Linked DNA regions of Homo sapiens: region 2 is linked to region 1. Evidence: fine-mapped expression QTL. A gene starts in region 1. The other region holds a variant in brackets. All regions are shown on one strand. Distances are between the middles of the regions.

Evidence for each region. PIP is the estimated chance that this variant, and not a neighbour inherited with it, causes the effect.
Region 2: its variant is the best candidate, but not a certain one, in a credible set for the expression of PVR in tibial artery (GTEx, PIP 0.73).

Annotation. Positions count from the first base shown.
Region 1 is chr19:44,640,765-44,646,074 of GRCh38, forward strand. PVR (PVR cell adhesion molecule) reads left to right here and starts at 3,146. Exons shown (of 8, transcript NM_006505.5): 1 at 3,146-3,411. The coding sequence starts at 3,333. RefSeq lists a silencer at 3,098-3,177.
Region 2 is chr19:44,694,416-44,699,790 of GRCh38, forward strand. CEACAM16 (CEA cell adhesion molecule 16, tectorial membrane component) reads left to right here and starts at 4,736. Exons shown (of 7, transcript NM_001039213.4): 1 at 4,736-4,845. It overlaps CEACAM16-AS1 (CEACAM16, CEACAM19 and PVR antisense RNA 1), which reads right to left. Exons shown (of 2, transcript NR_186815.1): 2 at 4,623-4,762. RefSeq lists an enhancer at 2,303-2,908. The variant C/G (reference allele first, on the strand shown) is at 2,431.

The DNA.
Region 1 (5,310 bases):
ACATGGGAAATGCCATGGACATGATGACCCAGGGAAGCACAGTTTGCAAGTACAAAAGGGCTGGAAACACCCAAAAAGCCCATCCCCTGAAGACAGTTTCAAAAATGACGGTGCATTCATGTAATGGAATAGTACACATTTGTGAATGAATGAATGAGGTAGCTCAATATATCTGCCTATGGGAAAATCACCAAGATATGTTGCTAAGTGAAAAACAGAAAGATACAGAATAATGCTACCATTTTATTTTTTAATGGGAGAGGGAAGAATAAGGAAATGGATTCATATTTGCTTAATTACACAAGCTTCCTGATGATCCTTTTGGATCCAGAAGTTTGAAAACCACAGCATCAAGAGGATGCCCATTGGGCATGGTGGCTCACGCCTGTAATCCCAGCACTTTGGGAGGCTGAGGAGGGTGGATCGCCTAAGTTCAGGAGTTCGAGACCAGCCTGGCCAACATGGTGAAACCCCATCTCTACTAAAAACACAAAAAAATTAGCTGGGTATGGTGGTGCAGGCCTGTAATTCCAGCTACTTGGGAGGCTGAGGCGCAAGAATCACTTAAGCCTGGGAGGCGGAGGCTGCCGTGAGCCGAGATCACGCCATTGCACTCCAGCTTGGGAGACAGAGCAAGACTGTCTCAAAACAAACAAACACACACAAAAAATAAGATGCCCATTGGAGATCTCCATTCACTATTTTATCAGATGATATTTCAGCACTTGAGTGAAGAAAATGTCTACAACTGGTCCAAACACTCAAGGAATTTAGACTCTTGACAGAGAAACACACAGAAGCAAGCAGATATGCCCCGAACCAAACTTGCTTTTTCTTCTAAGCCTGCTTCTTCGGAGCAGCCTCTGACCCTCCAGGGCCCTGAGAGGAGTCCCTGGAGCCACAGGAGCTTGGGAGCCCAGAGAAGTGGGGGAATCCCAGATGGTGACAGCATCATCCAGAGGAGGAACATAACGATGGCCACAGATTCCCAATTTGGAAATAACTCAGCAAAACAACACTGACAGAAAATTCAGAGATTTCCAAGAGACTAGCCTCCCTGTTTCCATTTAGAAATTCACCTACATACATCCAGGGTGAGAGACCCCAAGCATCAGATGTGTCATACACAAGCATCAGATCCAAGTTAGAGAGGGCACCCGGGGACAGAAACCTCCAAGCCAGCCAAAAGCCAAAGGAAGGATTTTACAGAAAGATACAGGAATGTGGGGCCAGGCACAGTGGCTCATGCCTGCAATCCTAGCACTTTGGGAGGCCGAGGTGGGAGGATCGCTTGCGGCCAGGAATTCAAGGCCAGCCTGAGCAACATAGCGAGATCCTATCTCTACAACAAATTTAAAAACTAGCTGGGTGTGATCACATATGCCTGTGGTCCCAACTACCCAGGAGGCTGAGGCAGGAGTTGAGCCCAGGAGGTGGAGGCTGCAATGAGCAATGATGGCGCCACTTCACTCCAGCCTCAGTGAAATAGTGAGACCCTGTCTAAAAATAATAATAAAAATAAAAAACATATAAAGATGTCAGAGCACAGGGACCAGAGCTGTTAGTCGGCCTCATGGAGACCCTGGCCAGGACAGCCACCTCTGGGGACCAGGAAGTCTCTCAGTTTCTGTCTCTGAGGGTTTGGCTCTCTGAGTCTCTCTGTCACCTCTCATTTCTCTCTCATCTCCCTCTGTCTATGCTGTGTCTCTATCTCTTTCAATCTCTCTGTCTCTGTCTCCCAGCCCTTATCTCTGAGTGTGTCTGTTTCTCTCTCATTTCTCTCTCTCTCTCTCTCTCTTTCTCTCTCTCTCTTTCTCTCTCTCTCTTTCTCTCTCCCCCCTCCCTCCTCCCCTCTCCCTACTGCAGGCTGGTCCATAACCCTTATCTTCCCCAGACCTGATGGAGTTCTGGTATTAATCTGTTTATGGTCTGTTTCCCTCCACTAGAACACGGTCTTCATTAAAGGCAGAGATTTTTGTCTGTCTTATTTTCTGCTGTATACCCAGTGCCTGGGATACTGGCTGGATCAATAAATATATGCTGAATGAAGAATGAATGAATGACCATTCTCATGAACATTATTATTTGATGCCAACTGTAAAGCAACAATAATAATAATTGTCACTGCCACTGCTGCTATTGTTGGTATATCAGCTTTTTATTTAGTACAAACTATATCCCCGAAATTGAGCTAGGCAGTTTCTTGTTTAAGTTTTACAGACCACGCTGTGAGGTAAGTACTGTTAGTATGCCCTTTTTTCTTTCTTTTTGAGACAGAGTCTCACTCTGTCGCCCAGGCTGGAGTGCAGAGGCCCGATCTTGGCTCACTGCAACCTCTGCCTCCCGGGTACAAGTGATTTTCCTGTCTTAGCCTCCCCAGTAGCTGGGATTACAGGCATGTGCCACCATGCCGGCTAATTTTTGTATTTTTAGTAAAGATGGGTTTTTGCCATGTTGGCCAGGCTGGTCTTGAACTCCTGGACCTCTGGTGATCCTCCTGCCTCGGCCTCCCAAAGTGCTGGGATTACAGGCGTCAGCCACTGCGCTTGCTCCCCCAGCCCCCAAACTTTTTTTTTTTTTTTTGAGACAGGTCTGGCTCTGCCACCCAAGCTGTAGTGTAGTGGCGCAATGGTAGCTCACTGAAGCCTCTAACTCCTGGGTTCACACAGTCCTCCTGCCTCAGCCTCCCAAAATGCTGGAATTCAGGCCTGAGCCACCGCGCCCTACTATGCCCATTTTTCAGATAAAGAATCTGAGGGCCCTCGAGGAGAAACCACTTGCCCAACATGAGCCCTGGTCTTGTCTGACCCCAAAGCCCATGGGAAGTTTAGGCTGCGTGGAAGGACAGCCTGGTGGGCTCAGGATCTGTCCCATCACGAGTTGGAACCTCAGCTCTGCCACTCGGCAACCGCGAGCCGTTAGTAAGTTGCTGAATCTCTCCGTGTGCCTCCGTTTCCTCACCTGGAATGTGGGCGACCTCACACAGGAAGCCGCCTCTTCTAGTGGGCACCGACGGAGCGAGCGCGCGTCTGCAGCGGGACTGAGCGCCGGGAGAGACCTGCGCAGGCGCAGGCGCGCGGGGAGGGCCAGCCTGGGTGGCCCACCCCGCGCCTGGCGGGACTGGCCGCCAACTCCCCTCCGCTCCAGTCACTTGTCTGGAGCTTGAAGAAGTGGGTATTCCCCTTCCCACCCCAGGCACTGGAGGAGCGGCCCCCCGGGGATTCCAGGACCTGAGCTCCGGGAGCTGGACTCGCAGCGACCGCGGCAGAGCGAGCGGGCGCCGGGAAGCGAGGAGACGCCCGCGGGAGGCCCAGCTGCTCGGAGCAACTGGCATGGCCCGAGCCATGGCCGCCGCGTGGCCGCTGCTGCTGGTGGCGCTACTGGTGCTGTCCTGGCCACCCCCAGGAACCGGTGAGTGACCCCCGCGCAGTCCGGTGGCCCCTGTCTGGCTCCCAGCTCCGCATCCAGGCCGGGTACTCGCCCCCTTGGGTTCCCGAAGATGACGGCCCCGCCCGGCGCCACCCACCCCCCATCTCTGCCCCGGGGTTGGAAGGAACACGGTGCGAGGGTGCGAGGGCAGGACCCTCCTCTTGGCCACCCGGAGAGCGGTCGGAGTTGGGTACAGAAATTCCTCGAAATTGGCAGCAACACGGGTCGGGCACAAGACCCTCCTCTGGGCCCCTCGGAAAGGGGATGGAGTTGGGTGAGGAAATTTCCCAAAAAGGCAAGTGAATCCCGGAAAATCAGCAGATGGTGACGCATGCCGGATTACCTTACCCAGGTTCCTGCTCAGCATACCCAGGCCATAACCCAGCAGCGTGCTGGCAGGCTGGGTCTGGACGGAGGGGATGGTTGATGTTGGGGAGGAGGACAGTGGGTGACACTTGACACCATTACCCCTCTGACCCCCAATGTCTGACTCCAGGGGCCTGGCCATTCATTCATTCTTTCATTCTTTTTTTTTTTTTTTTGAGACAGTCTCACTCCATCACCCAGGCTGGAGTGCAGTGTCCTGCTCTCGGCTCACTGCAGCCTCCTCCTCCCGAGTTCAAGCGATTCTCCTGCTTCAGCCTCCCGAGTAGCTCGGATTACAGACATGTGCCACTATGCCTGGCTAATATTTTTGTATTTTTAGTAGATACAGGATTTCACCATGTTGGCCAGGCTGGTCTCAAACTCCTGATAAATATATATATTATATATTATTATTATATATTACATATTATAGTAATATATAATAAAAATATATAATATATATTATAGTAATATATAATATATAATAAAATATATAATATATATTATAGTAATATATAATATATAATAAAATATATAATATATATTATAGTAATATATAATATATTATAATATATTATATATATTATTATAATATATAATATGTATATTATATATTATATATATTATTATAATATATAATATGTATATTATATATTATATATATTATTATAATATATAATATGTATTATGTATTATATAATTGATAATATATAATAATATATTTCTTAATAAATATATATTAAATATATTATATATTTATAACATATATTATTTATATAATAAATAATATATATTTTATTATACATTTAAAGAGTAAATAGATAACATATTTTATTATTTATTTATATGTTTTGTGTATATATATATATATATATATATATATATAGTGCGTGTGTGCGTGTATGTGTGTGTGTGTATGAGAGAGACAAGGTCTTGCTTTGTTGCCCAGGCTGGAGTGCAGTGGTACAATCCCGGCTCATTGCAAACTCGACTTCCCAGGCTCAAGCGATCCTCTCACTGTGGCTTCTGGAGTAGCTGGGATTATAGGTGCTCACCTGGCTAATTTTTTTTGTATTTTTGGTAGAGACAGGGTTTCGCTATGCTGCCCAGGCTGGTTGCAGCCAAGCACAGTGGCTCATGCCTGTAATCCCAACACTTTGGGAGGCTGTGGTGGGAGGATCACTTGAGCTTAGGAATTCAAAACCAGCCTGGGCAATATGGCAAGACCCCATCTCTACAAAAATAATTAACTAAATAAAAATTTAAAAATAAAAAAGAATGCATAGGACCATGTTTATTAGTGTCAATAAGCGCTGTCACATTTTGAGGACCTACTATGTGCTAGGGCCCTTAGCAGAAAGATTTTTATATAGGACCTGGGGGATTAGAGGTCAGTCTCTGACCGCCCAAGTTCAAATCCCACCTCTGCCACTAAACCTCTGTATGACTTGGAGGACACTATACTCTGTGTCAGTTTCCCTGTCTGTAAAATGATGTTAACAGTAGTGCTTGCCT
Region 2 (5,375 bases), 54 kb after region 1:
CGCCTCCTTCAGGCCAGAAAAAGCGCCACCACCACCACCTCCCAAACTAAAACAGCAACCCCTGCTCCTCTCTATCCACTTGCCCTATTTTATTTAATTTTATTTATTTTGAGACACAATCTCACACTGTTGCCCAGGCTGGAATGCAGTGGTGCAATCTCAGTTCACTGCAATCTCCACCTCTTAGGCTCAAGCAATTCTCCCACCTTAGCCTCCCAAGTAGCTGGAATTACTGGTGCACACCACCACCACGCCTGGCTAATTATTGTACTTTTTTGTAGAGATAGGATCTCACTGTGGTGCCCAGGCTGGTCTCAAACGCCTGGCCTAAGCGATCCACCCACCTTGGCCTCCCAAAGTGCTGGGATTACAGGCGTGAGCCCCTGCACCTGACCTATTTTACTTTTTATAGCTTTTATCTCTGCCTGACATTAAATGCCATATCAGGTTTTTTTTATTATTATTATTGCCCATCTCCCTCCAATAGGATTTAGCCCAACAAAGGAAAGGATGTCTCTGTGCAAACAGCCTGGTACATAGTCCATGCTTGACAAATATTTGTTAAATGATTGAATGGCTTGGAAAAACCCAGATGAATGAGGTGAGGAGGGTGGGGACGGGTATCCAAGCACAGGGAACAGCCTATGGAAAGGTCTGGAGCTTCTCCGATCCACCTGCCTCCTCTCCTGCATGGAAGCCTAGGTGCTTTTTTTTTCTGAGACAGAGTCTCACTCTGTCACCCAGGCTGGAGTGCAGTGGTGTGATCTCGGCTCACAGCAACCTCTGACTTCCGGGCTTAAGTGATTCTCCTGCCTCAGCCTCCTAAGTGTCTGGGATTACAGGTGCCCACCACCACACCGGGCTAATTTTGTATTTTTTTTAGTAGAGGTGGGGTTTCTCCATGTCGGTCAGGCTGGTCTCGAACTCCCGACCTCAGGTGATCCACCCGCCTCGGCCTCCCAAAGTGCTGGGATTATAGGCGTGAGCCACCACGCCTGGCCACCTGGGTGTTCTTTCTAGGGTCAGGAATTAAGGGGACATTTGGTCCTTTCTCCCCAAGAACAACCTCTCCAGGCCCAGCCAGAGCCAACTCCAGGCCTTGACAGGCCGGCACAGGAAGCCACACCCTGAGCAAATATGACGGCCCCCTCTGCCTCGCCCAAGATAAGGGGAGGTTGAAAGGGGTTTGGAAACCTGCTTCAGCCTAAGACATTAGCTCCAGCCAAACCCTCAGTCTCAAGGCCTCCCCACCCCTGCCCAGAGAGGACAGGACAAGGATTCTGCCACGGAGGCCCAAGTCTGACGTTTACATCTAATATATATTGATGATGTCAGTGGTGGGCAGGGTCTTGAAGAGCAGATAAAGGAGTTCCCAGCCTCCCTCCCGCTCCCAAGGAAACTAAGTGACTGGTGAGACAAGAGGGCTGGGCGGGCAAGGGGTGACCCTGACCAAACAAGGTCATAGACCCGTGTCCCCAGATGGCTGTGCAGAGAAGATAAGACTCATCTGCTCCAATCTTATGAGGCAATGGCCCGGGGCCTCAGTTTACTTGTCTGCAAAATGGGTTTTCTTGGGGGTGGGCAGCGGGGAGATGGATAACAGGAAAAGCTGAAGCTGTCAAAAAGAATAATGGGCCAGGCACGGTGGCTCACACCTGTAATCCCAGCACTTTGAGAGGCCAAGGCAGGTGGATCACTTGAGGTTAGGAGTTTGAGACCAGCCTGGCCAACATGTCAAAACCCTGTCTGTACTAAAAATATTAAAATTAGCCAGGCATGGTGGCGCATGCTTGTAATCCCAGCTACTCGGGAGGCTGAGGTGAGAGAATCGCTTGAACTTGGGAGGTGGAGGTTGCAGTGAGCCAAGATCGCACCACTGCACTCCAGCCTGGATGACAGATCAAGACTCCATTTAAAAAAGAAGAAGAAGAAGAAGAAGAAGAAGAATGATATCAGCAGAATACATCTACAAGCTGACCACTTCTCCCATCCCTGGTTCAGCCGCCACTACCTCCTGCCTGGTCCAGCACTACCCAACAGGAGCAAGAGTGGAGCCGCAAACACAATTCAACCTTTTCCAGCCTCATCTCATGAAGAAAGGTGAAACGAATGTATTTAACACAACATATGCAAAATGTCATTTCAGCACAGAATCAATATAAAAAACTGATTATCTGTTTTACATTATTGTGTATGCATGCGCTCTTTTTTTTTTTTTTTTTTCTTAATGAGACAACAAGGTCTTGCTCTGTCGCCCAGGCTGGAGTGCAGTGGTGAGATCACAGCTCACTGCAGACTCAACCTCCTGGGCTCAGGCGATCCTCCTACCTCAGCCTGCCAAATAGCTGGGACTACAGGCGTGCAACACCACTCCTGGCTCATTTTTAAATTTTTTTGTAGAGACGTGCTCTACGCTGCCCAGGCTGGTCT[C/G]GAACTCCTGGGCTCAAGCCATCCTCCCGCCTCAGCCTCCCAAAATGCTGGGATTACAGGTGTGAGCCACCGCGCCCGGCCCCCCTTATTGAACCTCTACTCCAATGTCGCTCTGACAATGTCGCCTTGCTGCCCTGCATAAACCAGTGCCCCGACCACCTCCATCCCTTCCCCTGCTTTATTTTTCTCCACAGCATTGTCCCCACCTGTTCTAACACTGCTCATGTTTGTATTCGTCTATTAACTGTCTCCCCAATCAATAGGTCAGCTCTGTGTCTACCGTATTCACGGCTGTAACCCCACAGCGCCTAGCGCAGTGCCCGGCACATAGTTGGTGCTCCATAAACATTTGTCAAATGGTGGAGGAACAACGACCACTGTGCCCCCAGTACGTGCTCTGAGGCAGGCCCGGCACGGAACACTCCATGTGCCTATTTTGATCCTCAGAAGAGTCCCAGGGAAGTCAATGTCATGAACACCCCCCACCCACTGCACAAACAGGAAAAAGCCCCTGCCCACAAGAACCCCGTCTGCTTTCTGCGCAGCCCGGCGGCGCACAGCAGGTGCTAAAGAGCCTGCAGCTCTTGACTGAACCAAGGATCTGGGCTCACAGCCGGGAGCACCAGAGGAGGGGCCAGGGAGGTGGAGGATGGGGGCAGACTAGGAAGGGTGGATGTGACGATAGAGGGCCTCTAGAGCCCGGCCTGGTCACACTCCGCAGGCAGACAGCAGATCACCAGGAACCTGAGCCTCTCTGAAGACTCCTCTCTCTGTGTCATCCACACCTGGTGTCCAGTTCCACAAACATGCTGTGAGCCTCTGCTCTGTGCCAGGTGATTTGCTGGGCAGTGCTGGGGACACAGTGGTGACAGCCCAGCCGTGCCCAGCTGAGGCTCCCAGGCCAGTGGGGGAAAAAGACCCAGCCCCAGACAGCGAGAACCCAAGGCAGTCAGGGCTGAGACAGGGAATTCCAGGCCCTGAAGTCCAGGAGGGCTTCCTGGAGGAGAGGGTTTGGGGAAGGCAGTGGAATAGAGCAGAGGGAAGCAGGGATATTCTGGGTAGAGTGCAAGTGAAACAGAAGAACTGAAGCAGAGGGTTCCCGGAAGCAAGTGGTATTCTATGTAGCTGGTCAGGTGGGCAGGAGTCAGGCCGGGCAGGGCCTCCTGGGCTACAGTGAGGAACCTGGGCTTCCTCCCAAGGGCACTGGGGAGCCACAGCAGGTTCTGAGCACGGAGGGGCAGAGGCAGGTTTTTGTTTTGGAAAGAGCCTCTGTCTGCCATGTGGAGGGGCAATGGGAGTCGGGGAGACCAGGGCCAGAGACTAGGGAGGAGGCTGGTGGGGAGACAGGAGGACCCAGGCAAGGTGGGGTGGTGGAGTGGTCACCTAGACCAGGGCAGGGGCTTCAGGGAGGGAGAGAAGATATACGTAGAGTCAGTTGCCAGAAGGGGTGGCGTGTTCGGGGAGTAGGGGGAGGCATCAGGGATGAGGCCCCAGGTCTCTTTTCCCAGCGATGAGGTGGGTAGTGGCGCCTTCCCTGATAAGGGCACCAGGGGAAGATACACTTCTGGGGGAAGATGCCAAGGTCAGTTTGGGACAAGGTGAGTGAGAGGTGCCCAGGGACATCAGGGAGGCATCCTGATTGATACTGGGATGAGGTCCCAGTGCTCTGGGCCAGGACGCAGAAGAGTGAGGTGAGGTCACAGGTGGGGAGAGGGGAGCAGGAGGCGCCAGGACATCCTCTGTGCCTCTCACCTGGCCTCACCCGCACCTCCTCAGGGCCTTCTCCCCCTTGTTAGAGCCCTGCCCCACGAGGGCAGCCCAGGACACAGTGCTGGAGGCAAACCAGGACAGGTGAGCACAGGTGTGGCCCCCTGCCCGGAAGCAGGCTGCAGAGGCCTCAGAGGAACCAGGACTCAGAAGCCATCAGGATGCAGGTCATAAGAACACAGCTATCAGCAGCTCTGGCACCACAACCCCCTCGGCTCCTGCCCAGCATCATCTCAGAGACACCTTCCCTGTTACCCTCCCTCCACCCCAATTTAAAGTAGCAAACCAGGCCAGGGGCAGTGGCTCATGGCTGTAATCCCAGCACTTTGGGAGGCCAAGGTGGGAAGATCACTTGAGGCCAAGAGTTTGAGACCAGGCAGAGCAACATAGCGAGATCCCATCTCTACAAAAAATAAAATGGCAAATCCCCTTTCTGACTTTATTTTTCAATCTGACGTGGAAGATATTTACCTTTCCTTTATTTACTCCGCAAATGTCGGCCCCCTGAGGGCAGGGATTTCATCCGTCTTGTGCACGGCTGCATCCTCAGCGCCTAGAACAGCACCTGGCAAACAATAGGTGCTCATTCAGTATTTGTCCAATAAGTGAATGAGTGATTTACTGAGCATTTACTCTGCGCCAGTCGTGGTAAGTACTGTACTTCACATGTGTATCTACTTAATCCTTTCAACAGCCCTGTGATGTGAGTACTATTGTTTTCCCTATTTTACAAATAAGGAAACTGAGGCTTGGCAGAGTCCATAAATTGCCCAGGGTCCTGGAGGTAGGAAACAGTGGAACTATGTCCAGAGCCTATACTTTTTTTTTTTTGAGATGGAGTTTCACTCTTTTGCCCAGGGTTCAAGCAATTCTCCTGCTTCAGCCTCCCAAGTAGCTGGGATTACAGGTGCCCGCGACCACACCCAGCTAATTTTTGTATTTTTAGTAGAGACAGGGTTTCACCATGCTGGCCAGGCTGGTCTTGAACTCCTGACCTCAGTTGATCCACCCACCTCGGCCTCCCAAAGTGCTAGGACTACAGGCATGAGCCACTGCGTCCGGCCATGAGCCACCACGCCCGGCCAGAGCCTATACTTTTAATAACAGGCATACCAATCAGACCCACGTCCACCAGGCTCTGGCTTAAATCCCTGACTTGTAGCCTCTCACTAACTGCT